Linked DNA regions of Homo sapiens. The protein of the gene in region 3 purifies or fractionates together with the protein of the main gene of each other region. This does not show direct contact. Each region holds a gene or a part of one and is shown on either strand. Other genes may lie near its edges. The genes, in order: EFTUD2, AAR2, DDX23 and PRPF3.

Region 1 (5,028 bases), on a different chromosome or scaffold from region 3:
GGGCAAAACCGATTATGCAGTTTGTAGGTCTTTAAGTCCCAACAATTAAAAGGACTGTGCTTGGCTGGGCGCGGTGGTTCACGCCTGTAATCTCAACACTTTGGGAGGCCAAGGCGGGCAGATCATGAGGTCTGGAGAGAGAGACCATCCTGGCCAACATGGTGAAACCCCATATCTACTAAAAATACAAAAATTAGCTGGGCGTGGCGGCAGGTGCCTTTAGTCCCAGCTACTCTGGAGGCTTCGGCAGGAGAATTGCTTGAACCTGGGAGGCGGAGGCTACAGTGGGCTGAGATCCGCCACTGCACTCCAGCCCGGGTGACAGAGTGAGACTCTGTCTCAAAAAAAAAAAAAAAAAAAAAAAAGGACTGTGAATTAAGTTCTCCTGTTCTGGGCTCCACATCACATGCTTGGTGAAGCCCCTATACTGAGCCATCTTCCCTGTTTAGGCTCCTGTCCCAGGCCTGTGGGGACAGTGTCTCATGACAGTTTGCCCTAGGGGTGAGAAAAATCATGCAACAGAACAGATGTTGAATTTCTCTTCCTCTTGAGATTAAAAAGCAGACAGCCACTTGCTAACTGTGTGACAGTGGACAAATCTTTCTCACTGAGCCTCAGTTTCCTGATGTGTAACATGACAATAACCACCCCTGGCCTGCCTACCTTGCAGGCTGCTGTGAGGTTTCTCAGATACACAATACATGTGAAAGTGTTTCGTGAACTGTCAGATAAGTGGTTTCCCCAGGTTGTGTGGTCAGATGCTTGAAGCAGCTGTTGGGACCTGGGGCAGAAAGATGAGCGGGAAGCTGGACTCTCAAGGGAGCAGCTAGAGGTGAACCCCTAGGACGCCTGAGAGCCAGAGGACGGGTGAAGGGTTTGATGCCAAGGGGCATTATTTCTTTTCTCTCACACAGGTGCTGTGTACACAATGTACAGCGATTACGTCAAGAGGATGGCACAGGATGCTGGAGAGAAGTAGGACTCCTATAGGAGCCGGGGCTGTCCAACTCCCCTAACTCAATCCCTGGTACATTCCTAATAAAGCAGTTTTGAGGAAAATCAACAGACTCTTTTTCACTGGGGGAGAACAGAGTAAGGGACTGGTGGTAGCTGGGGAGAGGACTTGGAGTAAATGGCTGGAAATCAAAGTGCTCTGGCCCCCTACTCCAGGGCAAGGAAGATTCTTAGGGGAGGCAGCAGTTTCCTGAGGAGGTGGTGGGGTAGACTTCTGATCGCAGGAACCCAACAACTCCCAAGCCATCTTAGGTTCCACCCAGAAGCAGCATGGAGTGGGAGCAAGGGGGCAATAATGGGGCCTTGGCGCTCATGGGAACACTGAATTAAAAGGCAGGCGGCTTCCCTGGGGACCCAGGCAGGAAGGAGGCTGCAGCTGGAAGCAGAGGCAGTGAAGCCTCTTGGGAGATGACATATATTCAGAATGTAAGCACCAGACGGGGCAGGGGAGACGAGGATGAAAGGAGCAGAGCAAGACAGAGGTCAGAATGTTCTGTTCACTTGCAAACCATGGCTAAGGTCAAACTTGTAGAAAATAAAATTCCATGTAAATCCCAAAGATAGGGCCCCTTGGGGTTTCATCCCCTTCTCTTTCTGTGAGCCCAAGCTCCTCTCTTTTCCTTGGGAATGGAGCCCGGCAGAGGCCACAGAAGGAAGCAGGAGGCCAAATGCTCCTCTCTCACTGGGGCTCTGGGTTGGAGGTTGGTGAGTTGTTCAAGATGGCAACAGCAGCTTCCAGACACTCTCTGACAACACGAAGGCCACGTCATATGAGGTCTCAGCTTCAAGTACAGGAGTTGCAGCCCACTGTAGGGAGCAGGAGCTCCCAGGAGTCCACGCACTCACATGGGGTAATTGAGCACAACATCCTGTTTGGCAAGTTCCAGCAACATAGGATCATCGAAGAATTTGCTGATGCTCACATCTTCACTGAGGCCCTGCAGGGAATGGGGCAAATATAAGAAAGCCCGAGGTGGTCGCAGACTAAGCAAGGAGACTATCCAAGACCTGTGTTCAGTGGGGAGGCTAGTGGTGGCTGGAATGTAGGTGGTGGTGTTTCAGGAGCCCTGCCTTTAGGGTACTATCACATGGGAGGATAAGGCTCTCCTTTCCCAACGAGACTGGGGCCCAGGTTTGGTTGCCTAAGGAGTATACAGATCATATCTCTACATTGGAAAAGTGTCCCTTAGGAAAAGGGGCCAAAAGAAAGAGAGAGAGATCCTGCTTCTGAGAGTCCTGGGGGGTTGAGGGATGGCAACAGGCCCAAGGGAGACATACCTTCCTACGGCGGGTTTTGATCATGAATTCCCGGGCCAGGTGAGGAGCTGGCTGTGGCTCCAAGGGGCGGATGACAATGCTCTTGTCCAGGGGATCACCAGGCACAATCTAAAAGGCAAAGGAATTTCAGATGGCCCAGGCAGAATTCCCAGAAGATTCAGGCCCAGAAGCAGGACTCTTCTTATTTATTTTATTCCTAAATTTATTACTTATTATTATTTTTTTGAGATGGAGTTTCGCTCTTGTCTCCCAGGCTGGAGTACAATGGCATGATCTCGGCTCAATGCAACCTCCGCCTCCCGGGTTCAAGCGATTCTCCTACCTCAGCCTCCCAAGTAGCTGGGATTACAGGCATGCACCACCACGCCTAGCTAATTTTATATTTTTAGTACAGATGGGGTTTCTGCATGTTGGTCAAGCTGGTCTCGAACTCCTGACCTCAGGTGACCTGCCCGCCTCAGCCTCCCAAAGTGCTGGGATTACAGGTGTGAACCACCATAGCCGGCCCTATTATTTCTTTTTTTTTTTTTAAACTGAGAGACACAGATTCAAGTTGCCCTGAATATATGCTCCCCAGAGGAGGACTCTTCTCCAGGATGCTGTACACCTCACTTAGGGCTTGGAGAGGGATCAGGACAGAAGGGGATGAGGCTTGCAGAGGTGGGAAGCCAAGTCCGCCAGCCTGCATTGCTTTCTCACCTGCCAGTGGTGGAAGACAGACAGAGAAAAGGCTTGTCCCTGGGTGTGAGTCCGGAGATCAGTCTCAAAGCCAAAAGAGTCGATGGCCGGGATAAAAGCTTTGATGGTGTACAGAGGGGAGCCTGGGATGGGTGCATCCTGAGTCACGTGCCCCCTGAGACAGAAAAACAAAGGCTGAGCCTCTAGTCAAACATAGGCCAAAAGCCAAGAAGCAATCCAGCATTTGCTGTCCCCCAAATGCATTCCAGCCCAGAGTTACCATCAAAGAAAGAGTAACCAAGAATGTTCTACAAAAAGCAGAAAAGGCTCAGGGCTCTCAGTATAATTCCCTGTGGAAGTCAAAGTGGCAGCAACCTCTGGGCAGAGGACAGGAGTGGGATGGTGAAGGGACAAGGGCCCAAAGACATTCCCATCACTGACTTGCCTCAGCACTGCCTCCAACAGCTCTGTGAGGAGGGGATCCCAAAAGAAATGTCAATTTTTTTTTTTTGAGACAGAGCCTTGCTCTGTCGCCCAGGCTGGAATGCAGTGGCGCCATCTCGGCTCACTGCAAGCTCCGCCTCCTGGGTTCACGCCATTCTCCTGACTCAGCCTCCCAAGTAGCTGGGACTACAGGCACCCGCCACCACGCCCAGCTAATTTTTTGTATTTTTAGTAGAGACGGGGTTTCACTGTGTTAGCCAGGATGGAGAAATGTCAAATTTTAATCTGCAGAAAAGCGGGGGCTTGCCTCCCTCCGCTCCTACTTCTTTCTGGAAAATCAGCTCTCGGGGTTTCCAGAGAGAGGAGGGTAGAGAAGGCCAACCTCTCTTCCCTGTAGGAGCCGAGGTGACTCTTGTTCTGCTCTTGCTCTCAGCACTCTCCCTAATACGCCTGGGGCCGCTCACCTGCGCCTGGCCAGGACGGTATAAACTGCAGAGACGCAATCTGCAGGGGCCTGGACCTCTACAAAGTAGTAAGGCTCCATCAGACGAGGAGTAGCCTGCAGCAGAGCAAGAAGAAAGGCCCCTCAGCTTGGGGAAGGCTGGGGGCCTATAGTCCCACTTGCTCCTTCACTTAGTCCCCTGTCCAGTGAAGCAGATGGTCCCCTACCGCCCCATTCTCTTACCATGAGGAAGGCAGAGTAGACGACTCTCCTGGCTGTGGGGATGATCTGGCCCCCGCCCCGGTGCAGGGGCTCCTGGGCAACCACCGCATCCAGGATCTTAAACTTGACATTCCGAATCACTGTAAAGGAGGTGGAGGGAGTGACTGGGGAGAGGTTCTGGGCCTGTCATGGGGCCATGGCAGAGTAGCAGTCTCCTGCAACACTGCAGCTGTCTTGCAGTCATGAAAGACATGGTACAGAAATCAAATGGGAGGTGGGCGTTCTAACTGAATAAGCAAGGCCCATGGCAGAGGTCAGAAGTTAAGCATATGTTCTTAGTGTTTGCTTCAGGCCATGCTCAGACTTAGAGCTTTCCTAGAAGTTTATTTCCTTCTTCTGCACATATTTACATTTTTGTGGATGTAGAATAAATTCCAGAATTGTACATTTGGTCCATGAAGCCCAATCAGGGTCTATAAACCATTCCAATCTCATCATCCTCTTGATATCTCTTCTCAAATACGTCCAACGCCAAACCCTTCTCAGAAATGAGGAGCAAATGACAGTTTAGAAATGACTTAAATTTCCATTTCCAGGCTACACCACCAGGATAAGGAAGGAAAAGGGAAGAAGCTGGCCCAGGACTTGGGATGGTCCTGTGTACCCCAAGCTGCTTCTCCTGCCGAATCCTAAAGATGGTGAGCCCATCCCACTCATATGCCTGGCTGCAAGGACCCTCGAGGACTGGGGTGGGGGAGTGCTGGTGGACTTACATTCATCACAGAGGGGGCCCTCCCTGGTTCCCCACTGGAAACCTTGAACGATGCTGTCCTTCACTGAACCAAGAAGAGCCTTGTCCACCTATAGAGAAACATGAGGCCTCCTTAGCAGTCGCCCTGGCAACGGCTGAAGCATTTAGAGGGAGAAGACAGATGTGCCTGTAAGGGGAT
Region 2 (6,981 bases), on a different chromosome or scaffold from region 3:
TCCACCGTCCATTCTTAATATCTTCTCAGATCTCTTTCTCACAACAGAGGGTGAGGGTGGAAAATGCCTGGACAGGTCACTCTAAACTATATGCCTACATCATTTAAAACTACAATTCTGCCAAAAAACTATCCCAAAAGATTTGGAAAGATTAAATCAAGTACATATCCAGTTTCCCATAAGCCTCAGGGAAGGCCCAGAAATGGACAGACGGTAGCAAGTGGAGGCTCAGCATCTAAAGTTTGTTCAGGGTCTAGAGAGCTTTCCTACCACAAATCTCCCCTCTTCTTTCACTCATAAAAAACCTAAACTCCAGGGAGTGAAACAACTTCCCAAAGAGCCCACAATCAGTGGTGGCTCTGGACCATTCATCCAGAATGAATTCAGGTGGTAAAGCTAGCCTAGGAAGAGAAAGCTGGCCAGAAGAGAAAGAGCTTAGTACACTTATTTTACCTACTTCTGAATATCCCAGACATTGCCTCTGGGATATCGGCAAGAATGGTACCAACATGAACAAATGTAAACAAACCATTATGCAACCTTCTAGTCCTAAGATACCTACCTGACTAATTTAACAAATACTCACTGAGTGCCTGCATTGTGCCAGGATCTTTGCCAGGCCCCCAAAAAACATCACAGATTAAGACAGTCACTGCCCTCTAGGCAATTCCAATCTAGCCAAGACGTCAAAATTTCACACACAGAAAAACGAGCTGCCTGTTTAATTGTTTACTTTTTTTTTTTTTTTTTTTGAGACAGGGTCTCGCTCTGTCACCCCAGCTGGAGTGCAGTGGCGTGATCTCGGCTCACTACATCGTCCACCTCCCGGGTTCAAGCAATTCTTGTGCCTCAGCCTCCCAAGCAGCTGAGACTACCGGTGTGTGCCACCACACCTGGCTAAGTTTTGTATTTTTAGTACAGAGAGGGTCTCACCATGTGGCCTAGGCTAGTCTGGAACTCCTGACCTCAGTGATCTGCCCGCCTCGGCCTCCCAAAGTGCTGAGATAACAGGTGTGAGCCACCATGCCTGGCCCTGTTTACCCTTTTTACTTTAAATAAAGCAGTGCAGAAAGGAAGACCAATCCTTTTCCAAAAATAAGAGCACATTTTATCATTGTTACCTCAAAACCACCACAAATGACTCTTACCCTGAATCAGCACTTTGTGTTTCACCAAACTGCAAGTCACAATCCATTAGTGGATTAGGAAATCAATGTGAAGGTCTCAACCAGCATTATTTTTTAAACGAAAATAACAGAATTTTTGAAATATCACAATACATCATGAGTAGTAAAGCTAAGTACTGTTTTCTGGAGCTTTGTGTGTTTGTGTGTATACTTGGTTGTGCCATAAAATGTATTCGTTACTGTAGGTCACAGTCATAAAAGTTTGAAAGACTCTGCTCTAAATAATTCGTATCAACAGGCCGGGCGTGGTGGCTCACGCCTGTAATCACAGCACTTTGGGAGGCCGAGGCGGATGGATAATGAGGTCAGGAGTTTGAGACCAGCCTGGCCAATACTGTGAAACCCCATCTCTACTAAAAATACAAAAAAAATTAGCCGCGCATGGTGGTGTGCGCCAGTAGTCCCAGCTACTTGAGAAGCTGAGGCAGAAGAATTGCTTGAACCTGGGAGGCAGAGGTTGCAGTGAGCTGAGATCACACCACTGCACTCCAGCCTGGGGGTCTGAGCGAATTCCGTCTCAAAATAATAATAATAATAATAATAATAATAATAATAATAATAATAATAATACGTATCATCTTCCTATTTGTAATCCTGAATTCAGAAAGTATTTAATATTTGCTGAATGAACAGATATTCCATTTACAATAACAGCTCATCAATTAGCCATTTTCCCTTGTGACATCTGTGTGCTCCTCCTTGATAATGACGTTTCTTTCATGCTAATTCCACCAGTCTGTAATTCTATTCACTATATCTCCAGCAGCTGGCACAGGGCCTAGCACAGAGGAGATGCTAGGAAAACGTTTATTAAATATGCATAGAACTCTGCAGTCTACCAGCCCCTGTCACTGACAGCTCTGTGAGTTCCTCACAGTCCTGGAACACCTAAAGTCACATCCATCCACTTCTCTCCACCACCTCCCTAATCCAAGCTACCATCGTCCCTCACTCAGAGTGCTTGCTCCTCAACCCATTCTCCATTCAACAGCAGTAACCTTTTCAAAATGCCAATCTAATCACAACACCACCCATGTCAGCTTCTGAGTGGTTTCCCATATGGTTCTTGAAAAACCAGAATTCTTCCTATTACCTACAAAGCCTGCACGGTCTGACTCCTGGCAACCCCTTTAGCTTGTGTCACACAATGGTCCCCCACAAGCTCTCTGTTCCAGCCACAACGGCCTCTTTCAGAACCTGAAATTGGAGGCTGTCTCCATATAGAAAACTCTTCCCTCCCCACTTTGTCAAATCCTTTTTTCTGATCTCAGCTCAATATTCACCTCCTCAGTAAAGGTTCCTTGCCCTGGGGCTAGGTCAGGTCTCCTGTGATATAATCTGGGGTGCCTTGTACCTTTCCGTCTCAATGATCACAACTGCAGTTTTGGATGTTTGATTGAAGGCTGTCATCGCCACGAGACTTGAGTCCTGCTGTATCCCTAGCACAGATTCAACGCTTAGTAAACATTTATTTAATACAAGTATGATATCCATTTTGTAAACGAGAAACAAAGCCTCAGTTCGGGGAAAGACCTTACTGGAAGTCACGCAGAGAGTAGGGCAGAGCCAGGTCGAGTGCAATCAGGGTCTCCGGCCCCCAGGCTCTAAAGTTAAGAAAACCGCGACGTAACTCTGGCGACGGCTTCTCAGGAAGGGCCTCCAGAGACACCAGCGTCCCACAAACAGAGAACCAGCCGCCCCGGCGAGGTGGGCCTAGTTCAAGGCACTCCGTGACTCTGAGCCGAGAAGAGGGGCGGCCCAGCCACACATACACAAGGAATCAGGAAAGGAAAAAGAGGCCAGGAGGCCACACTCACCGCCTCGCCCCACGTTCCGGTACAGCGGAAACGCACCGGAAGTTCTCCAGCTTTGGCGTCTGACTGGAGCGACGGGGGAAGCGGTCCGGCAGAGCCCTGGGTCGCGGGAAGAATGGCCCGTGCCTGCAGGTTCCGCCGGATGCAAGGTTGCCTTTTGTTATTCTTAGTTTCTCGTTTTAGCTTCTGAATTGTGAACAACTTTCATTAACCTATGCATTTTATATCCCCGTCCAGAAACACAGCCACCAGCCATCTTACTTTGGGCTCAAGCAGTCATGGTCACTAAAGCACAGCCAAGGCTTGTACCAGTGGCTACTATTCAGAAGTAGCCAGTCAGGCGCTCGGTCACTGTCTTTGTCAGCCAGTCTCTATCCCGGTCACAGTGTCTCAGCTTCCAGTCACACTCAGCCCTCGGGGAGAGCCTCAGAAACCCAGCCACCAGCCCAGAGAGAACCAGCGTCAGCCTCCGCTGCTGCAGCAGCAGCGGTCGCCACCTCAGTCCCTCTGGCCATTATCACCCCGTGTCCTTCCTGCAGGCCAAGTCCTAACATCTCAGTCAGGCTATCAACGCACTAGGGAAGGAATCTGCCTGTCTTGTTCCTCACTGTTTCCCTGGAACCGAGCACAAAGCCAGGCACAAAAGCTCAGCTGAGTACATATATTATGCATTTAATTAATAATGATGATAATTTGGTATTAATAAATAACTATTTGTGGGTCTAACCCTGCACTATTAATCAGGGTTCCACCAAAGATACAGAGCCAGTAGGAGATCTATATTAAGTGATTTATTGCCAAGAATTGGCTTATGTGATTTTAGGGCAGGCCACTTGGGTATTTCTTTTTTTGAGACGCAATCTCACTCTGTCACCCAGGCTGGAGTGCAATGGCGCTATCTCGGCTCACTGCAACCTCCACCTCCTGGGTTCAAGCCATTCTCCTGCCTCAGCCTCCCAAGTAGCTGGGATTACAGGCGCCCACCACCGTGCCTGGCTAATTTTTGTATTTTTAGTAGAGACGGGGTTTCATCTTGTTGGCCAGGCTGGTTTCGAACTCCTGACCTCAGGTGATCTGCCCACCTTGGCCTCTCAAAGTGCTGGGATTACAGGCATGAGCCACCGTGCCCGGCCCACTTGGGTATTTATAATCCTTGCACTAACCCTTGTAAGGTATGTGTATTCCCAATTTGCAGAAGAGAAAACTGAGGTTCAAAGAGATGTTACACAGCCAGAGAATGGCAGAGCTAGAATGCAAACCAAGGGCTGTCTGTTCTTATCTCTTGTGCTGCTGCTCCTTAGCTTGTCTGTCACATTTCCTCAGTGACAGCTGGACACGCCAATCTGTCTCGGTCAAAATTTATCTCTTAGTGGGTTGCAGACTAGACCGGGCCCTGCAGTCATGGTTAATCACAATGAGCTGCTGCAGGATTAACCAGAGACAGCCTCCATCAGTCACAGTCATGCTTACCAATCTCAGCCTGTCCTGTCAAGTTTCATCTCCTGCATGAAGAAGCTCAGCTCCCTCTCCACCCCTCCCCACTCCCAGTCTTAAGTGCTGAGCTCTATGGTCTGGTCTCAAAGCTCCCTGTTTCAGTTGGGCTCACCGTCTTTTCAGAGACTCCAGGACACTGAACACTGGTTGTAGAAGCTGTAAATGGTGGCCTAGGAGTCCCACCTTGTGGGTCACATGTCCATTTAGATCAGAATTTCTCAACCTTGGCACTATTGACATTTGGGGCCAGATAAGTATTTGTTGTATGTGGCTGTCCTGTGCATTGTAGGATGTTTAGCAGCAACCCTGGCGTCTACCCACTAGAGCTAGTAGCACCCCTCAGTTGTGACAACCATTGCTAAATGTCCCCGGGGCGGGGGTTGGGGGTAAAGGAGGAGGGGTCATTTCCCCACTCTCAATGCAGTTGAAAAACACTAATCTGGGTGAACTTACCTTTGATTATTCGACAAAAGCCGAGTCAGGATGGTCCTTTATGGGAGACAGAAATATGGATCAGGGTGTATGGGGTCCTGAGGAATCATATGAAGACCCATTGTTTGTAAACCAAGTCCTATTCCAGAACCCTAGGGATAACAGATTGCTAAAGGAGACCTATAGGGAAAATTCAGAGAAGGATTCATAATGTTCCTCGCAGCAATTGCCTCTGACAAGAGACAGAAATCTGGAGAAGGCTGAAGAATCACTTTTCACTGCATAGTCTTTGTATCATTTAATGAATTACCTTTCCAAAGAAAATAAGTATTTAGTATTTGAAAGTATACGGAAATGCTCAGGATATATATACGTGTATATAGATATATATGTACATATATATACATATATGTACATATATATATTTTAAAGTATTTACAAAAGTATGTACAAGATGACCAACTCTGGAAAAATACATACACATGGAAAAGACTCGCTGGTGAGATTTGCAGCAATAAAGGTGGGCTGAGGTGAGTTGCTTGGTGGAATAAAAGGAAAGTGTGGTGTGTGCACCTCAGGTGGTCCAAGGGATGAGTTTAGGTTTTAAGTGCATTGTGGTTGTTAATTTTAATATTTTTGCATTTATTTTATGAAGACCTCCTTTCTTGGCAAATAACATAAGCTTTTCATTTGTGGAAGTAATATAGTTTCCTTTTTAAATGCATTTGCTTTTAACGTGAGTCAATTTATTTAGTTAGTTATTTTATTTTATTATTTTTTTGAGACGGAGTCTCTCTCTGTCACCCAGGCTGGAGTGCAGTAGCACGATCTCGGCTCACTGCAACCTCCGCCTCCTGGGTTCAAGCGATTCTCCCGCCTCAGCCTCCCGAGTAGCTGGGATTACAGGTGTGCACCACCACACCCGGCTAATTTTTTGTATTTTTAGTAGAGATGGGATTTCACTATGTGGGCCAGGCTGGTCTTGAACTCCTGACCTCAGGTAATCTGCCTGCCTCAGCCTCTCAAAGTGCTGGGATTACAGGCGTGAGCCACTGCACTTGACCTGAGTCAATTTAAAGAAAAATAAGTGAATAATGGGACAGGTGGTATGAGGATATGGGAACATATATAGAGGTTCTGGGCAAAGGCCGAAGTTGAGGATTGCTGTATTTTTTCCCACTAGGCTCCCATGTAGGGGGGTTACAGGAAGAGAGACTCCAATGTAGGTACTCTTCTTTCAGGAGGAGGGACCATGCTGTTTCTCCGCTCAATAAGCCCCTCCACGTCCTGGGGCCTGTATGCTTACTGTTCCCTCTCCTAGAATGTGCACCAAAGTTCCTCGCCTTTGTTGATTGATCCTTCTTTTCATTCAGCTCACAGATCGCCTCCTCAGGGAGGCCTTACCTGGCCACTGTATTTAAAGTGGTCTCCTTCAGTGACCCTCCTTCCCTTCTCCCGGTGTATTTCCTTCCTAGTGCTGAGTGCTCTGTAACGGACTGTTTGCCTGTGTTGGCATCTGTTTCCTCCACTAGCCTGTGGGTTCATGAAGGGCAGGGACTTTTGTCTTGTTTGTGTTGTGCCTGGAGAGTCACCCAAGGCCTGGACCACCTTGAGTTCCAAATATTTGTTGCATAAACATGTTCTAAGTTGGGATGTCTCCACTTCAGTTTTAGCCCCTCCCACAGTGCCAACTTGTACCAGTGGCCAAAGTCAGAGAGAGACAGTGAGAGAGAGAGAGAGAGAGAGAGAGAGAGAGAGAGAGAGGAGAGGTGCCAAGGAAGTATGGTTCAGCATCAAACACATTTATTTCACTTATATTGAGTATACAAGAACAGAGAGCACACGCATACAGCACGGAGCACTGAGGTGGGGGAGCATGGGGACGAGAAAGGAGAGAAGGGTGTGAGTAAAAAGGAACAGGACAGCATCGCAATTGGTTGTTAAGGTGCTTTTGAAAAAAAAAATTATTTCGAGTGATGTTGCTCATGCAGTTTCAGGCCAGTCTTGGAATGTGCTTGCAGGATTCAAAAACTGAAACAGGTCCTGGTACTTCC
Region 3 (7,302 bases):
GGTATTACAGGTGTGAGCCCAACTACACGTTTGTCAGTTAAAAACATATTTGTTTGGCCAGGCCTGGTGGCTCATGCCTGTAGTACCAGCACCTTGGGAGGCCAAGGCGGGAGGATCACTTAAGCCCAGGAGTTCGAGACCAGCCAGGGTAATATAGCAAGACTTCCCGTCTATTTTGAACAATAAAATTTTACATTTATAAACAGTTAAAAATCAGCCGGAGGCCAGGAGCAGTGGCTCACGCCTGTAATCCCAGCACTTTGGGAGGCTGAGATAGGCAGATCATGAGGTCAGGAGTTCGAGACCAGCCTGGCCAACAGGGTGAAACCCCGTCTCTACTAAAAATACAAAAATTAGCCAGGCGTGATGTCAGGCATCTGTAATCCCAGATACTCGGAAGGCTGAGGCAGAACTGCTTGAACCCAGGAGGTGCGGGTTGTTGTGAGCCGAGATAGTGCCACTGCACTAGCCTGGGTGACAGAGCAAGACTCCCTCTGTCTCGAGAGAAAAAAAAAAAAAAATCAGCCAGGTGTGGTGGTTCACACTTGTAATCCTAGCACTTTGGGAGGCTAGGGTGGGTGGAATGCCTGAGCTCAAAAGTGCTCAAGAGCTCATAGGCAGAGGCCTGGGAGGAAAATATCGTCCAGGAACACGGCTTGTGCCCCCAGGAGCCAATACTACCTATGGGGCCCATGCCCCTTCGCTCCTGCCTGGGGAGGATCACCTGAGCCCAGGCTGAGGTGGAAAGACTTCTTGACCCTGGGAAGCACTAATGCAGGAGGAATACTGATTCAGGATGAGTTCAGTGAGCTGGGCAGGAGTCAGATAATGAAAATGTGTTACAGGTCAGAGTAGAGTTAACTTGGATTTTAACTGCAATGGGGATCTTAGAAGAGCTTTAAACAGGAAGCAATCTAATACTTTGGTGACTTGCAAGAAAATATATAGCAGAGAGACAGAGTGAAAACACAACCACTGAGAGTGCTATTATGGTACTCTAGGCAAGAGATGGCAGTGGCTTGTTCTAGGAACGTGGCGATGGAGATGGAAAGAAGTAGGCAGCGTCAGAGTATATTTTGGAGGCAAAGCTAACAGGACTTACTAAGGAAGAAGCAGAAAGAGCAGACACAAAGATAGCTCCTAAATTTATAGTTTCAGCAACCTAATAGTTTGTGGTGCCATAGCAAACAAACTGGAGAAGACTAGGGAACGAACAGATTTAAGAGGAAATCAAACGTTTCATTTTGGCCAGGTTGAGTGTGAGAATATCTGTGGAGATTCCCAGAAGGCAAAGAGAAATGCAAATCTGAACTTAGGGGAGAGGGTCTGTAGACAAAAACTTGAGTCACCAATACACAGATAGCTTTTAAAGCCATGGGACACTAAATGATATTACCTAAGTAGGCAGCATAGTGAAAGAAAAAAAATAGAGAAGAAGCTCCAGAATTGAGCTCTGGAACACTTTAACAGGAGTTAGCCACGGGATGAACCAGAGAAAAAGACTGAAAAGAACTAGCAGCCAGTGAGAAAAGACAAAGAAAAGCATGGCAACGAAGAAGCCAAAAACATGTTTCAAGGAGGGAGGGGTCAACTGTGTCAAGTACCACCGAAGTGGAGAGGGAATAAGGGACAGGGAAGTAACCACTGAATTTGGAAAAATGGAGATTATTGGTGACCTTGACAAGAGCTGTTTCAGTTGCATTGCGGGAATGGAAGCCTGAGTGGAATGAGTTTGGAAGAGAATGAAAAATGAGAAGAAGACAGTAAATACAGGCAACTTTTATTACAGGTTCTATTATCACAAGGGCCAAATAACCAGGCTGACTCTGGCCATGCTTCCCAGCAGCCTTCCTCTCAAACCTCCAGATCTTCAGGTCCTCAGTTCTTGCAGGGCAGGGGCACATTCTTTTTTTTCACTCAATGACGTATTTAACAAGCATCTACTGTACGCAAGGCACAGTGCTAGGTGCTATGTGAGTTACAAAAATAAATTCTGTTCACAGGAAGTGTTTAGAACAACAGGGTTATGAGGTCGGACGCGGTGGCTCACGCATGTAATCCTAACACTTTAAGAGGCCGAGACAGGTGGATTGCCTGAGCTCAGGAGTTCGAGACCAGCCTGGGGAACACGGTGAAACCCCGTCTCTACTAAAAATACAAAAAATTAGCCGGGCGTGGCGGCGTGCGCCTGTAATCACAGCTACTCGGGAGGCTGAGACAGGAGAATCGCTTGAACCCGGGAGGCGGAGGTTGCAGAGAACCAAGATCGTGCCATTGCACTCCAGCCTAGGCGACAGAGCGAGACTCCGTCTCAAAAAAAAAAAGAAAAGAAAAGAAAAAAAAGAACAATAGGGGGTATGAGACACATACCAAGAAGAGTATCAAGGCTCAGATGTAGTAATACAGGTGTTCAAAGGCGTTTCCTTTCACTTGTAAAAGGTGATGTGGAAGGCTTGGAAGAGGAAGTGACGCTTGAGCTTTTAAGTATAAGTAGAATTTTAAGATATGTAATTAAGGACGCGGAAAAGAAGTCATTCCCGGCAAAAGAAATAATACGGCCGGCGCAGAGGCGGGAAAACATGGACTGACTGCGAGAGAAAAGCCAGAGTTCCAGTTTGGCTGCACCAAAGGCTACTTTAAGCATGAAAGAATAAGGTCAGACTGGGGGTATCAGAGGCGCTGTGCCCATAGGCAGAGTCCTGGGAGGAAAATATCGTGCAGGGACGTGGCCTGTGCCCGGAGGAGCCAACACTACCCCTGGGGCCCGCGCCCCTTCACTCCAGCCCGCCCGAGCTTCCCGGGTTCATGCCCCTTCTCTGAGGCGTTCTTTCCCGCCTCATCCAGGAGGCAGGGGCCACCGCCGTGCCCTGACTCTAGCCCTTTCTGTAAGCTCGTGGGAACCGCCTCCACCGCCCGGGACTCACCACCCTGAGTCTGAACCGCCCAACGCGGCCTCAACGTCGCGGAGCCGTCGCCATCTTTCCCGTTTCCTGGTCGCGGAGATGAACACCCCCCACCCCCCCGGCCGCGAGGCAAGCTGGGAAGGCGAGTTCCTGGAGCTGGGCGGCACAGGCCGACACTGAGGCCTGGAAACTACCAATCCCAGAATGCATGACTTGAGCGCCGGCCCCAGGCTGCGGGGTCTGCCGGGCAATGTGGTTTGCCAGACGTTAGCGTCCGGGAAGGAAGAGTTTTTCGCCAATAGGCTTTCGGCATTAGGTTCTCCCGCCGAGCACCCTTCTTGGAATCGGCTGGTCTTCCTAGAAACTACGGTCTATGACTGTCCTTGCCCGTGGCTTACAGTGGAGGAATTTAAGGGCTTCCTGAGATATCTGTAGTACGTAATTATAGCTAACAACCGCAGTAACAATAAATACCATTCGTGGAAAAGCGGTTTTTATAATAATTCTGTGAGAATGGGGCTAGCCCCATTTTACAGTTGGACAAACTAAAGATCAGGTTACCGGAGTAGGTTCACAAGGAGGGTGATGCAGTTCTCCATTGTGTGTGGAACTATCCCAGGCTTAGGAGGACGTTTTAGCAACCTTGGCCCCTGCAGCCGGGTGAATGCCATAACAACCCCCAGTTATTGTTACAGCTCCAAATGAGCCCACACAATGGGCTCTAAAGTCCTCCCGGAAGGATGGTATCTCCTGGGCTCTAGCACCTGTTTTCTCAACATTCCAGATGGAACCCTGGTTTCCTCAATTTCTTGCCCTTTGGAATGTGACCAATTGTTGAGCTATCTTGGTATTTTTGCTTCTTTCTTCCCCCAGATTCCCCTACTTCAGTCTTCCACTGAGTTTTGTTGTTGCTGTTGTTGTTGTTGTTGATGTTGTTGTTGTTGTTTTAACCTCAAATCGTAAGTTCACTTTGTGTTTCTCTTTGGTCTTATGGGTTCATAACTCTTTCCCTCAAAACAAAACAAAACATTGCAGTTGCGGAAACGGTTTAGATAACCAGAAGTATCTCGGACCTCCCTTCCCATTTTGCCAGCAGCAGGTTTGTTGCTTCAATTCCACATGGCTGTAGGTCTGCCTTTTCTCTCTGAATATGCCCAAGCTCTCAAGCAGAGCCTCAGGATAGACCCAAGTAATCCTAAAGCCCTGAGCATCACGTACAATGGCCCAAAGTAACCCTCGGAGACACACACTTCTCTTAGAACCTGCAGCCTTTCACCTCCCAGCTTCTACTCCAGAGAGAACGCAAGGGAAAGAAGAGAGCTCTGAGATCTGTTAGGTGTAATTCACCACAAAAGCACGAGAGGGCGCTCGACTCACAGATTCACAGATTAAACTAAGAATCAGACCAACCATGGTAGGCCAGAATCTTCAAAAACTGCAGCCACTTTTTATTGAGAATCTTCTAAGTGCTCAGCTCTGGGCTGGACACTTAACCTACCTTATTTGTTTTACTTAGTTCTCATAGCAGTATGAGATGAGTGCTATCTCCATTTTACTGGTAAGGAGATTGTGGCCCAGAAAGAGTAATTATGCCTTCAAAGGCCACATAGTTAAAAGAATGGGCCAGGTGAGGTGGCTCATGCTTGTATCTCAGCACTTTGGGAGGCCAAGACAGGAGGACTGCTTGAGCCCAGGAGGTCGAGGTCGCAGTGAGCCATGCTCGTGCCACTGCACTACAGCCTGGGTGACAGAGCAAAACCCTGACTGGAAAAAAAAAAAAAAGAAAGAAAGAAAAAAGAAAAGAAAAGAATGGAGCCAAAATTCAGGTTCATTTAACTTCAGAGTCCATTACCTTTCCCCATTTTCAGGCTGCCATCTCAACTCTCTTTAAATTGAGCTCCTGGAGGGTGATAAAGCTTGTCCCAGTTCATAGTGGCAGAGTTCCTCTAGTACTTGTGCGCACATCTCATGACACATGTAAGACATTGGGCTTCAAGGATACTTGTTATTTGTCTTGCCCCACTAGTTCTCTCACAAACATGAATCTTTGTTTTCTTATTTGTTTGTATTTTTATTTTATTTTATTTATTTATTTATTTTTGAGATGGAGTCTCGCTCTGTCGCCAAGCTGGAGTGCAGTGGTGCAATCTCGGCTCACTGCAATCTCCACCTCCCTGGTTCAAGCGATTCTCCTGCTTCAACCTCCCAAGTAGCTGGGATTACAGGCACATGCCACCACACCCAGCTAATTTTTGTATTTTCAGTAGGAACGGGGTTTCATCATGTTGGCCAGGATGGTCTCGATCTCCTGACCTCGTGATCCACCTGCCTCGGCCTCCCAAAGTGCTGGGATTACAGGCGTGAGACTCCACACCTGGCTTATTTACTTATTTATTTTTGAGACCGGGTTTCACTTTGTTGCCCAGGTTGAAGTGGAGTGGCACAAACAGCTCACTGCAGCCCTGACCTGGGCTCAAGTGATCCTCCTGCCTCAGCCTCCCAAGTAGCTGGGACCACAGGTGCACCCCATCATGCCTGGCTAATCGTTTTACTTTCTGTAGAGACAGGGTCTTGCAATGTTGTCCAGTTTGGTCTCAAACTCCTGGCCTCAAGCAATCCGCCCGGCTCGTCCTCCCAAAGTGCTAGAACTACAGGCACCAGTCACCACACCTAAACCATCATCTTTGGAGACAGAGACAGAGGGATGGTGTTCTAGTAAGAACCATAACTGGAGATACCTATTTAGGTACAACATGCCTACCAGTAAGGGGTCCATGGGATTTTGGTGAACAGTGAGTTCTGGTTTGAATCTTGGCTCAATTGCTTACTAGTACTGTGATCTTGTGCAAATTATATGGCATCTCTGGCTTTTCTCTTTCCTCATTACAAAACAGAGATAATAATACCACTTCCCTCACAGGACAGGACAGCAGAGCAAGTTAGAGTGCATGATGTGAAGCCAGATTGCCTGGATTTGTATCCATGTTCAACCACTTCCTAGCTGTGTGACCTTGTGCACGTTACCTAATCTCTCTGAACCTCGGTCTTCTTTTCTGTAAAATGAAGTAGATAGCGGCGGGGCGCCGTGGCTGACACCTGTAATCCCAGCACTTTGGGAGGCCAAGGTGGGTGGATCACCTGAGGTCGGGAGTTCGAAACCAGCCTGACCAACATGGAGAAACCTCGTCTCTACTAAAAAAACAAACAAACAAACAAACAAAAACAGAATTAGCCGGGCATGGTAGCACATGCCTGTAGTCCCTTGGGAGGCTGAGGCAGGAGAATCACTTGAACCCAGGAGGCAGAGGTTGCGGTGAGCCAAGATCGTGCCATTGCACTCCAGCCAGAGTGAAACTCCGTCTAAAAAAAAAAAAATAGCACCTCATAGGCTCATAGGGTTATCACAGGAATAAATAACATAGAAAGAACTCGTAAGTGGGGCCGGGCACCATGGTTTATGCCTGTAATCCCAGCACTTTGGAAGGCCGAGGCAGGAGGATCACTTGAGCCCAGAAGTTCAAGACCAGCCTGGGCAACATGGTGAAACCCCATCTCCACAAAAAATAGACTACTACTGTGGTACTCCTGTAGTCCTAGCTACCCAGGAGGCTGAGGTAGGAGGGTCAGGAGGGTGATCAGGACGGTGAACCAGGAGGGTGAGGTTGCAGTGAGCAGTGGTCATGCCACTGTACTCCAGCGTGGGCGACAGAGTGAGACCCTGTCTCAAAAAAAAAAAAAGAAAAATCTCGTAAGTGCCCCGACCCATAGTAAACATTTAACAAATGTTAGCTCTTATCATTTATGAGTCTAAATGTGATCATGTAAAGCCCTCAACACAGTGCACAGTGCTGAACACTCATTAAGTACATGCTAACTTTATTTATTTATTTATTTATTTAGAGATGGAGTCTCCCTCTTTTGCCCAGGTTGGAGTGCAGTGGCGCAATCTTGGCTCACTGCAACCTCTGCCTCCCGGGTTTAAGCGATTCTCCTGCCTCAGCCTCCCGAGTAGTTGGGATTACAGGCACGTGCCACCATGCCCGGCTAATTTTTGTATTTTAGTAGAGATGGGGTTTCACCGTGTTAGCCAGGATGGTCTCGATCTCCCGACCTTGTGATCCACCTGCCTCAGCCTCCCAAAGTTCTGGGATTACAGGCTTGAGCCACCGCGCCTGGCCTAGTACATGCTAACTTTATTTCTGGCACTAGCACTACACTATGGCACTTGGAAAACAAGAGCTATAAGTCACTGAGAAAGGAAGTTAAGAGTTAAGGCCCCTGAGCTGCCATCAGTAGGCATCGGAATTGGAAGGTCATGAAGGCAAATGTCACCTCTCCTTGAACTCAGAGGAGACCAGAATCCCAGGAGCCTCCCCCAGCTTTGGCTTAGTCTGTCCAC
Region 4 (7,030 bases), on a different chromosome or scaffold from region 3:
AATACAAAAATTAGCCGGGTGTGGTGGTGGGCGCCTGTAATGCCAGCTACTCAGGAGGCTGAGGCAGGAGAAGCGCTTGAATCCAGAAGGTGGAGGTTACAGTGAGCCAAGATCATGCCACTGCACTCCAGCCTGGACAACAGGGGGAGACTCCATCTCTAAATAAGTAAAGAAAGAAAGAAAATAAAAAAATTAAAAATTACAGGGCTGGGCGTGGTGGCTCACGCCTGTAATCCCAATACTTTGGGAGGCTGAGGCAGGTGGATCACGAGGTCAGGAGATCGAGACCATCCTGGCTAACAGGGTGAAACCCCATCTCTACTAAAAATACAAAAATTAGCTGGACATGGTGATGCACGTTCTGTAATCTCAGCTACTCAGGAGGCTGAGGCAGGAGAACTGCTGGAACCCAGGAGGCGGACGTTGCAGTGAGCTGAGATCACGGCATTGCACTCCAGCCTAGGCAACAGTGCAAGAGCGAGACTCCGTCTCAAAAAATAAAATAAAATAAAATGAAAAATTACAGGCTGGGCCTGGCAGCTCACGTCTGTAATCCCAGCACTTTGGGAGGCCGAGCCGGGCGGATCACGAGGTCAGGAGTTCGAGACCAGCCTGACCAACATGGTGAAACCCCGTCTCTACTAAACATACAAAAAAATTAGCTAGGCGTGGTGGCGCGTGCCTGTAATCCCAGCTACTCAAGGGACTGAGGCAGAAGAATAGCTTGAACCCGGGAGGCGGAGGTTGCAGTGAGCCGAGATAGCGCCATTACACTCCACTCTGGGCGACAGAGTGAGACTCCGTCTCAAAAAAAAAAAAGAAAGAAACATAACAAAAGGATATGTTGTGAATACGTCCATCCCCATTCTCCATAAAAAACATCATTGGGCCTGGCACGGTGGCTCATGCCTGTAATCCCAGCACTTTGGGAGGCCGAGGCGGGTGGATCACGAGGTCAGGAGATCAAGACCATCCTGGCTAACATGGTGAAACCCCATCTCTACTAAAAATACAAAAAATTAGTCGGGCATGGTGGTACATACCTGTAGTCCCAGCTACTCAGGAGGCTGAGGCAGGAGAATGGCGTGAACCCGGGAGGCAGAGGTTGCAGTGAGCCGAGAACGCGCCACCGTACTCCAGCCTAAGTGACAGAGCAAGACTCCATCCCCCACCCCCCAAAAAAGAAAATAATTGGCTGGGCGTGGTAGCTCACGCCTGTAAGTCCAGCACTTTGGGAGGCTGAGGCAGGAGGATCATTTCAGCCCAGGAGTTCAAGACCAGCCTGGGCAACATGGTGGAACTCAATCTTTAAAAAAAATACAAAAATCAGCCAGGCATGGTGACCTGTAGTCCCAGCTACTTGGGAAGCCAAGGTGGGAGGATCACTCAAGCCCGGGAGGCAGAGGTTGCAGTAAGCCAAGATCTCGCCACTGAACTCCAGCCTGGACAAAAAAGTGAGACCTTGCCTGAAAAACAAAAACAGGCTAGGTACGGTGGCTCACGCCTATAATCCCAGCAATTTGGGAGGCCAAGGTAGGCAGATCACTTGAGGTCAGGAGTTCCAGACCAGCCTGGTCAACATGGTGAAACCCTGTCTCTACTAAAAATACAAAAATTAGCCGTGCGTGGTGGCACATGCCTATAATCCCAGCTACTTAGGAGGCTGAGGCAGGAGAATCACTTGAACCTGGGAGGCAGAGGCTGCAGTGAACCGAGATCGCACCACTGCGCTCCAGCCTGAGTGACAGAGAGAACATCTCACACACACACACAAAAAAAATCCATTTCTTTCCTTCTGTAAATATCACATATATGCAAATCCACCCACCCATATTTCTGTATATGTTCTATTACCCCCCTCAAATATTAAATGGTAAAAGAAACACTTATGTGGTATTATTTAACAATGCCAATTGAAAAAACACAAATACTTCCTGTTAAAAAAAAATAAAGTCAACTTAAAATTATTTATCAGTGGATTATATCTTCTTTGCATTATGTTTGGAGAGTCTCCTCTGTCATTAAGATGAGTTCTGATCATTTCATTTAATTTTCTCAATGACTCAACGACATAGGTAATTAGGCAAATAATGTACATAACACACTTTGCTTGCCACAGTAAATGGCAATTTCAATACCCTTACCTAGAATACTCCTGGTCAAATCAAAGAACGCTAAAACATAAAGCAGGAAATAAAATTTTCCCAAATGCTGGCCTGGCATGGTGGCTCACACCTGTAATCCCAGCCATTTGGGCGGCTGAGGTGGCAGATCACTTGAGGCCAGGAGTTCCAGAGCAGCCTGGCCAACATGACAAAATACCATCTGTACTAAAAATACAAAAATTAGCCAGGCGTAGTGGTGTTCGCATGTAGTCCCAGCTACTCCGGAGGCTTAGGCAGGAGAATCGCTTGAACCTGGGAGGTGGAGGTTGCCGTGAGCTGAGATCACGCCACTACACTCCAGCATGGGCAACAGAGTGAAACTCTATCTCAAAAAAAAAAGTTTACCCCAAATGCTAAACACTAATTCAAATCAAGATCACAATAAGGCGAGGCACGCTGGCTCACGCCTATAATCCCAGCACTCTGGGAGGCGAAGGTGGGCAGATGACCTGAGGTCAGAAGTTGAAGACCAGCCTGCCCAACATGGTGAAACCCTGTCTCTACTAAAAGAAATACAAAAAATTAGCCGGGCGCAGTGGCTCGCTCCTGTAATTCTAGCACTCTGAGAGGCCAAGGTGAGTGCATCACCTGACATCAGGAGTTCAAGACCAGCCTGGCCAACATGGTGAAACCCCATCTCTACTAAAAATACAAAAATTAGCCAGGCTTGGTGGTGGGTGCCTCTAATCCCAGCTACTCAGTAGGCTGAGACAGGAGATTTGCTTGAACCCGGGAGGCGGAGGTTGCAGTGAGCTGAGATCGCGCCACTGTATTCCAGCCTGGGTGACAAGAGCAAAACTCCACCTCAAAAAAAAAAAAAAAAAAAAAATTCCACAATAAATACAGACCCATGCACCTTTTGCTTCTTCAACTCACAAAACCACTTTGCTTCCAGTCCCTAATCACTAACCTGGAGCTTAGTCAGCATGCCAGGGCTCTCTGATGGAGGCCCAGGGATCACCTCTGGCTCTTCTTCCACCTCCTCAAAACGGGGTATTCGTCGCTTCTTTACTCCTGATGATTCTTTAGAGATCTCAGAGTCATCACCAAACACCTCCTAAGGGAACCCAAGATGAAAGAAAAGCTGTATCCCTCCCCGTGGGGAGAAGGGAAGAATTATCCTAGCCCCTACCAGCATTTTCTGGCTATTCCCAGGGGAATATGACACAACCTTGCAAATAGCCACCTGCCAGAAGCAGGGTCTACTAGACTCTCCATCTCACCCAACTTCAACATTCTCCTAATCCAGTCAAACAAATTTCATTCCCATGTTCTTATAAATGTTCCCATCTCAAGGTCTTTGCAAATGCTACTGCTCACATTTATAATGATTTCTCTCAACTTTTCCACAACCCCTGTTCCAAATCCTGCCTAAAACTCACCTCCTCCAAGAAGTTTTCCTCATTATAACCTATCCCACTCTGATTAAACTTTTGTTTCACATTCTCTTAGCGTGTAAGAGCTTGGTTCATATTAGGTTAAATTACATTGTTGATATTCTGTTTGCCAAGTGTTAAGTATTTCAATGTTAGTATAGTTTTCCCAACTAAGTCTAAGCTCTTCCAGGACAGGGGCTTTCTCTTTCTTCTTCAGTAATCCCCATTAACACTTTGTTTTCATCAAACAATGGAAACTCAAATATGATGACTAATTTGCAAGGTGAATTTAACAGGACCGAGAGTGGCCAACTGGAAGGGACAATGGGAAAAAGCAAATGTACACACCGGTGGTAGGCTTTGGGTGACATCCCCTCTTCACTAGGAGGGCTCGTGTTTTGCAAGGACATATCCTCGGCCAGGGGCGAGCGCTTCCTGGAACTCCTACAGTTCAAGAAAAAGGACTCTCCCATAATATATTGTGTGGGGTGGGGACCTGAATGGACCAAAAATGGGACCCGTATCCCAAGGCTATCTAGACACCTCCTTCAAGAAGCCATTTTTATTAATCCCACCCAATGTAGTCACTTCATTCACAGCATGCCCTCAGCACTCATACAGAAGTATGCCCTACTGGCCAGGCGCAGTGGCTCATGCCTGTAATTCCAGCACTTTGGGAGGCCGAGGCGAGCAGATCTTGAGGTCAGGAGTTCGAGACCAACCTGATCAACATGATGAAACCCCGTCTCTACTAAAAATACAAAAATTAGCCAGGCATGGTGGCATGTGCCTGTAATCCCAGCTACTCAGGAGGCTGAGGCAGGAGAATCACTTGAACCTGGGAGGTGGAAGTTGCAGTGAGTCAAGATTGCGCTACTGTACTCCAGCCTGGGCGACAGAGTGAGACTCACCCTTAGAAAAAAAAAAAGGAAAAAAAAAAAGAAGTATGCCCTATCGTGACATAATCTTCACTGTACAGATCTGTGTATACTGTGGATCAATCATTCCACCTTAAATATAACAAAATTCAACATAGGTCTGAAATTCTATAACCAACCCTAAAATTTACATGAAACTGCTACTTAGATTTTATAATACGTGAATATATATTTTGTGATACCCCTGCCTCTTCTAAATTGTAACTCCTGGGCTCAAGAGATCCTCTTGCCTCAGCTTCCCAAGTAGCTAGGATTACAGGCACATGCCACACTGCCTGACAAATTACAAATTGTTTTAAGGCAAGGACTATCTCTCCTTCTCTGACCACCCTACAATGCTCCAAACACAAAGGGCACAAATCTCTCTGCTTTTTTTTTTAGTTCCATAGCCTGGCCAGGGGACCAAGCAGACATTACTTATTCACTCTTTTCCCTCAGGAAAAGTAATGGGATAGCCAAGGTATCAGAAGAACTTTGGAAGGTTTGATAGGAGTCACAGAACTTTTTTTTTTCTCCTAAAGAGAGATACTGGGAAATGAGTAGAAAAATAGGCTACTTGATACTGCTAATACTGAAAGAGGCCAGGATCAGTCGGCAACTACAGAATAAAAAGTGTAGTAGTTAAGGGGGTACTGACAACTCCTCCAAGTGTTTCACTCATGGCAGCAGAGGACCAGCAATATGCCATAGAGCAAATGGTAAGCTCTCAAGAATATAATAAATAATAGTTATTTTTTGGTATTCTATCTACAAGTGCATTGCAGAGAAACCTCTACAAAGAGGCAACAATGAGGTGTACAGCTCAGGTACCAGTGGAGTCACATTCTAAAACAACTTATTAGGCCTCAAATAAATCAAAGATAAAATCTTAGAGCAATCAGTTTATAAGTAACAGTAAGAAGGAAAAAAAGGAAATATGGAGAAACATGAGAATCAAAACTCCTGTTATCTAAAAAAAGACAAAGCTGCCAATTATTTCTTTGGATATTTCAACCCATGAACTTAGAGGTAGTTCAGATGGTGATGACACTAATTCATCTCTCCTACTCTAATGTCTAAGTACCTCTCTTGAACATTTGCTGCTCTAAATAGAGGATATCAACGTGTGAACTGGTAAGCTCAGCAACTCTGTTACCATTCAAAACAGTCCTGAGCTCATTAGACAGTAAATTGTAACCTACCTTTAGCTCTCGTTTTCTGCTCCTGTCACTGCTAGACTTGGAATGCCTAGAGCTTCGGCCTTCCTCCACAGCCTCAAACAGTTTGTCCACAAATCGGAGAGTAGAATCATCAAGAAAAGGTTTCAGATGATCTGACAGGAAGAAAGGCGGTGGTAGGGTTGGAAAGGTAAGAGTACACAGTCTAATACTAGGCCTATAACAGGTACCAACACTGGAATTTTATTCCCAGGAGTGAAACAAATTTTAAGTTTTTTGTAGGATTCCCATCTCTCTTACACTAAATGACCTTGCCCTGTGAGGTGAAAATAGTTATAATTTTTTGGCGTGGGAAGTGGTGCAGTTAGAGCAACCTGTTTACCTTGAACATCAAGTTTGAGATGAATAACCACCCTCACCTTTCCCAAATAGCAAGTTGTAGAAGCCTACCATTAACAAAATCTACCTCCTTCAAGCTTTTTCATGTATTTCATAAAGATTTTTGTATGTTGAGATGTTCAGTCTGAATCTGAATATGCCTATCTGACTTAAGCATACTTCCTAAGTAAATCTAACTTAGGTGACTCAGTATGGTAGCCAAACGAAGATTTAAAATCTATCATAAATAACATAAAAAATAAGCAATTAAGAGAAAAAGCAAATTATTATTTAGCCTATTTTCACTATAATACAGGTGAAAATAAAATATGGCCTGCCATTTTTTTAGATGTTCCCAACAGAGAGAATTTTGAGGAAGTTCAAAGCAGTGTTTGGGGTCACCCTATATGTTAAGATAAAAGATGCAGAAAGGTACATACCGGCTGCCTTCTTCTTGTCCATGCCCTTCCCCACACAGTTCAATGCTGCTGTGACCACCGTAGGCTCTGAGAAACCCAGGACCCTCTTCACTGTCTTCTCTATCCATGGTTTCAGCTCATCCAGCTCCCTCTTTGACAGTGCCATTTTTCAGGAAAAAGAGAACAATAGCTCAAACAGGACTCAATACTACACCTAAAAAAAAAAAAGAGACAAGTTAGAGAATAAGAAAAGACTAAAGTGGGCTGGGTGCAGTGGCTCATGCCTGTAATCCCAGCACTTTGGGAGGCCAAGGTGGATGGACTGCCTGGGGTCAAGAGTTCGAGACCAGTCTGGCCAACATGGTGAAACCCTGCCTCTACTAAAAATACAAAAAAATTAGCTGGGCGTGGTGGCATGTGCCTGTAATCCCAGCTACTTGGGAGGCTGAGGCAGGGGAATAACCAGGGAGGTAGAGCTTGCAACAAGTCAAAATCGCACCACTGCACTCCAGCCTGGGCGACAAAGCAAGACTCTCTCTACAAAAAAAAAAAAGACTAAAGTGATCCAGGGAAATGGTTAGTACATCAGGAATGCAT

What was found.
Region 1: the proteins of DDX23 (region 3) and EFTUD2 purify together in Homo sapiens (affinity purification with mass spectrometry; 8 studies listed by BioGRID and IntAct, with this or other methods). This does not show direct contact.
Region 2: the proteins of DDX23 (region 3) and AAR2 purify together in Homo sapiens (affinity purification with mass spectrometry; 5 studies listed by BioGRID and IntAct, with this or other methods). This does not show direct contact.
Region 4: the proteins of DDX23 (region 3) and PRPF3 purify together in Homo sapiens (affinity purification with mass spectrometry; 4 studies listed by BioGRID and IntAct, with this or other methods). This does not show direct contact.

Annotation. Positions count from the first base shown.
Region 1 is NC_000017.11:44,849,418-44,854,445, forward strand, and holds the end of EFTUD2 (116 kDa U5 small nuclear ribonucleoprotein component), read right to left. Parts: intron 4,940-5,028; coding exon 4,852-4,939; intron 4,219-4,851; coding exon 4,100-4,218; intron 3,974-4,099; coding exon 3,879-3,973; intron 3,146-3,878; coding exon 2,992-3,145; intron 2,401-2,991; coding exon 2,293-2,400; intron 1,953-2,292; coding exon 1,857-1,952; 3' UTR 980-1,856; coding exon of another isoform or gene 915-979; 3' UTR 531-914; downstream 1-530. Other genes in the region: HIGD1B (HIG1 domain family member 1B), read left to right, coding at 915-979. UniProt on the Homo sapiens protein: Required for pre-mRNA splicing as component of the spliceosome, including pre-catalytic, catalytic and post-catalytic spliceosomal complexes. Component of the U5 snRNP and the U4/U6-U5 tri-snRNP complex, a building block of the spliceosome.
Region 2 is NC_000020.11:36,232,527-36,239,507, reverse strand, and holds the start of AAR2 (protein AAR2 homolog), read right to left. Parts: upstream 3,031-6,981; 5' UTR 3,005-3,030; exon of another isoform or gene 2,726-3,004; intron 2,627-2,725; exon of another isoform or gene 2,471-2,626; intron 1-2,470. UniProt on the Homo sapiens protein: Component of the U5 snRNP complex that is required for spliceosome assembly and for pre-mRNA splicing.
Region 3 is NC_000012.12:48,849,160-48,856,461, forward strand, and holds the start of DDX23 (probable ATP-dependent RNA helicase DDX23), read right to left. Parts: upstream 3,005-7,302; 5' UTR 2,925-3,004; exon of another isoform or gene 2,891-2,924; intron 2,656-2,890; exon of another isoform or gene 2,562-2,655; intron 1-2,561. UniProt on the Homo sapiens protein: Involved in pre-mRNA splicing and its phosphorylated form (by SRPK2) is required for spliceosomal B complex formation.
Region 4 is NC_000001.11:150,324,512-150,331,541, reverse strand, and holds part of PRPF3 (U4/U6 small nuclear ribonucleoprotein Prp3), read right to left. Parts: intron 6,648-7,030; 5' UTR 6,600-6,647; coding exon 6,455-6,599; intron 5,792-6,454; coding exon 5,661-5,791; intron 3,986-5,660; exon of another isoform or gene 3,890-3,985; intron 3,223-3,889; coding exon 3,076-3,222; intron 1,091-3,075; exon of another isoform or gene 1,044-1,090; intron 1-1,043. UniProt on the Homo sapiens protein: Plays a role in pre-mRNA splicing as component of the U4/U6-U5 tri-snRNP complex that is involved in spliceosome assembly, and as component of the precatalytic spliceosome (spliceosome B complex).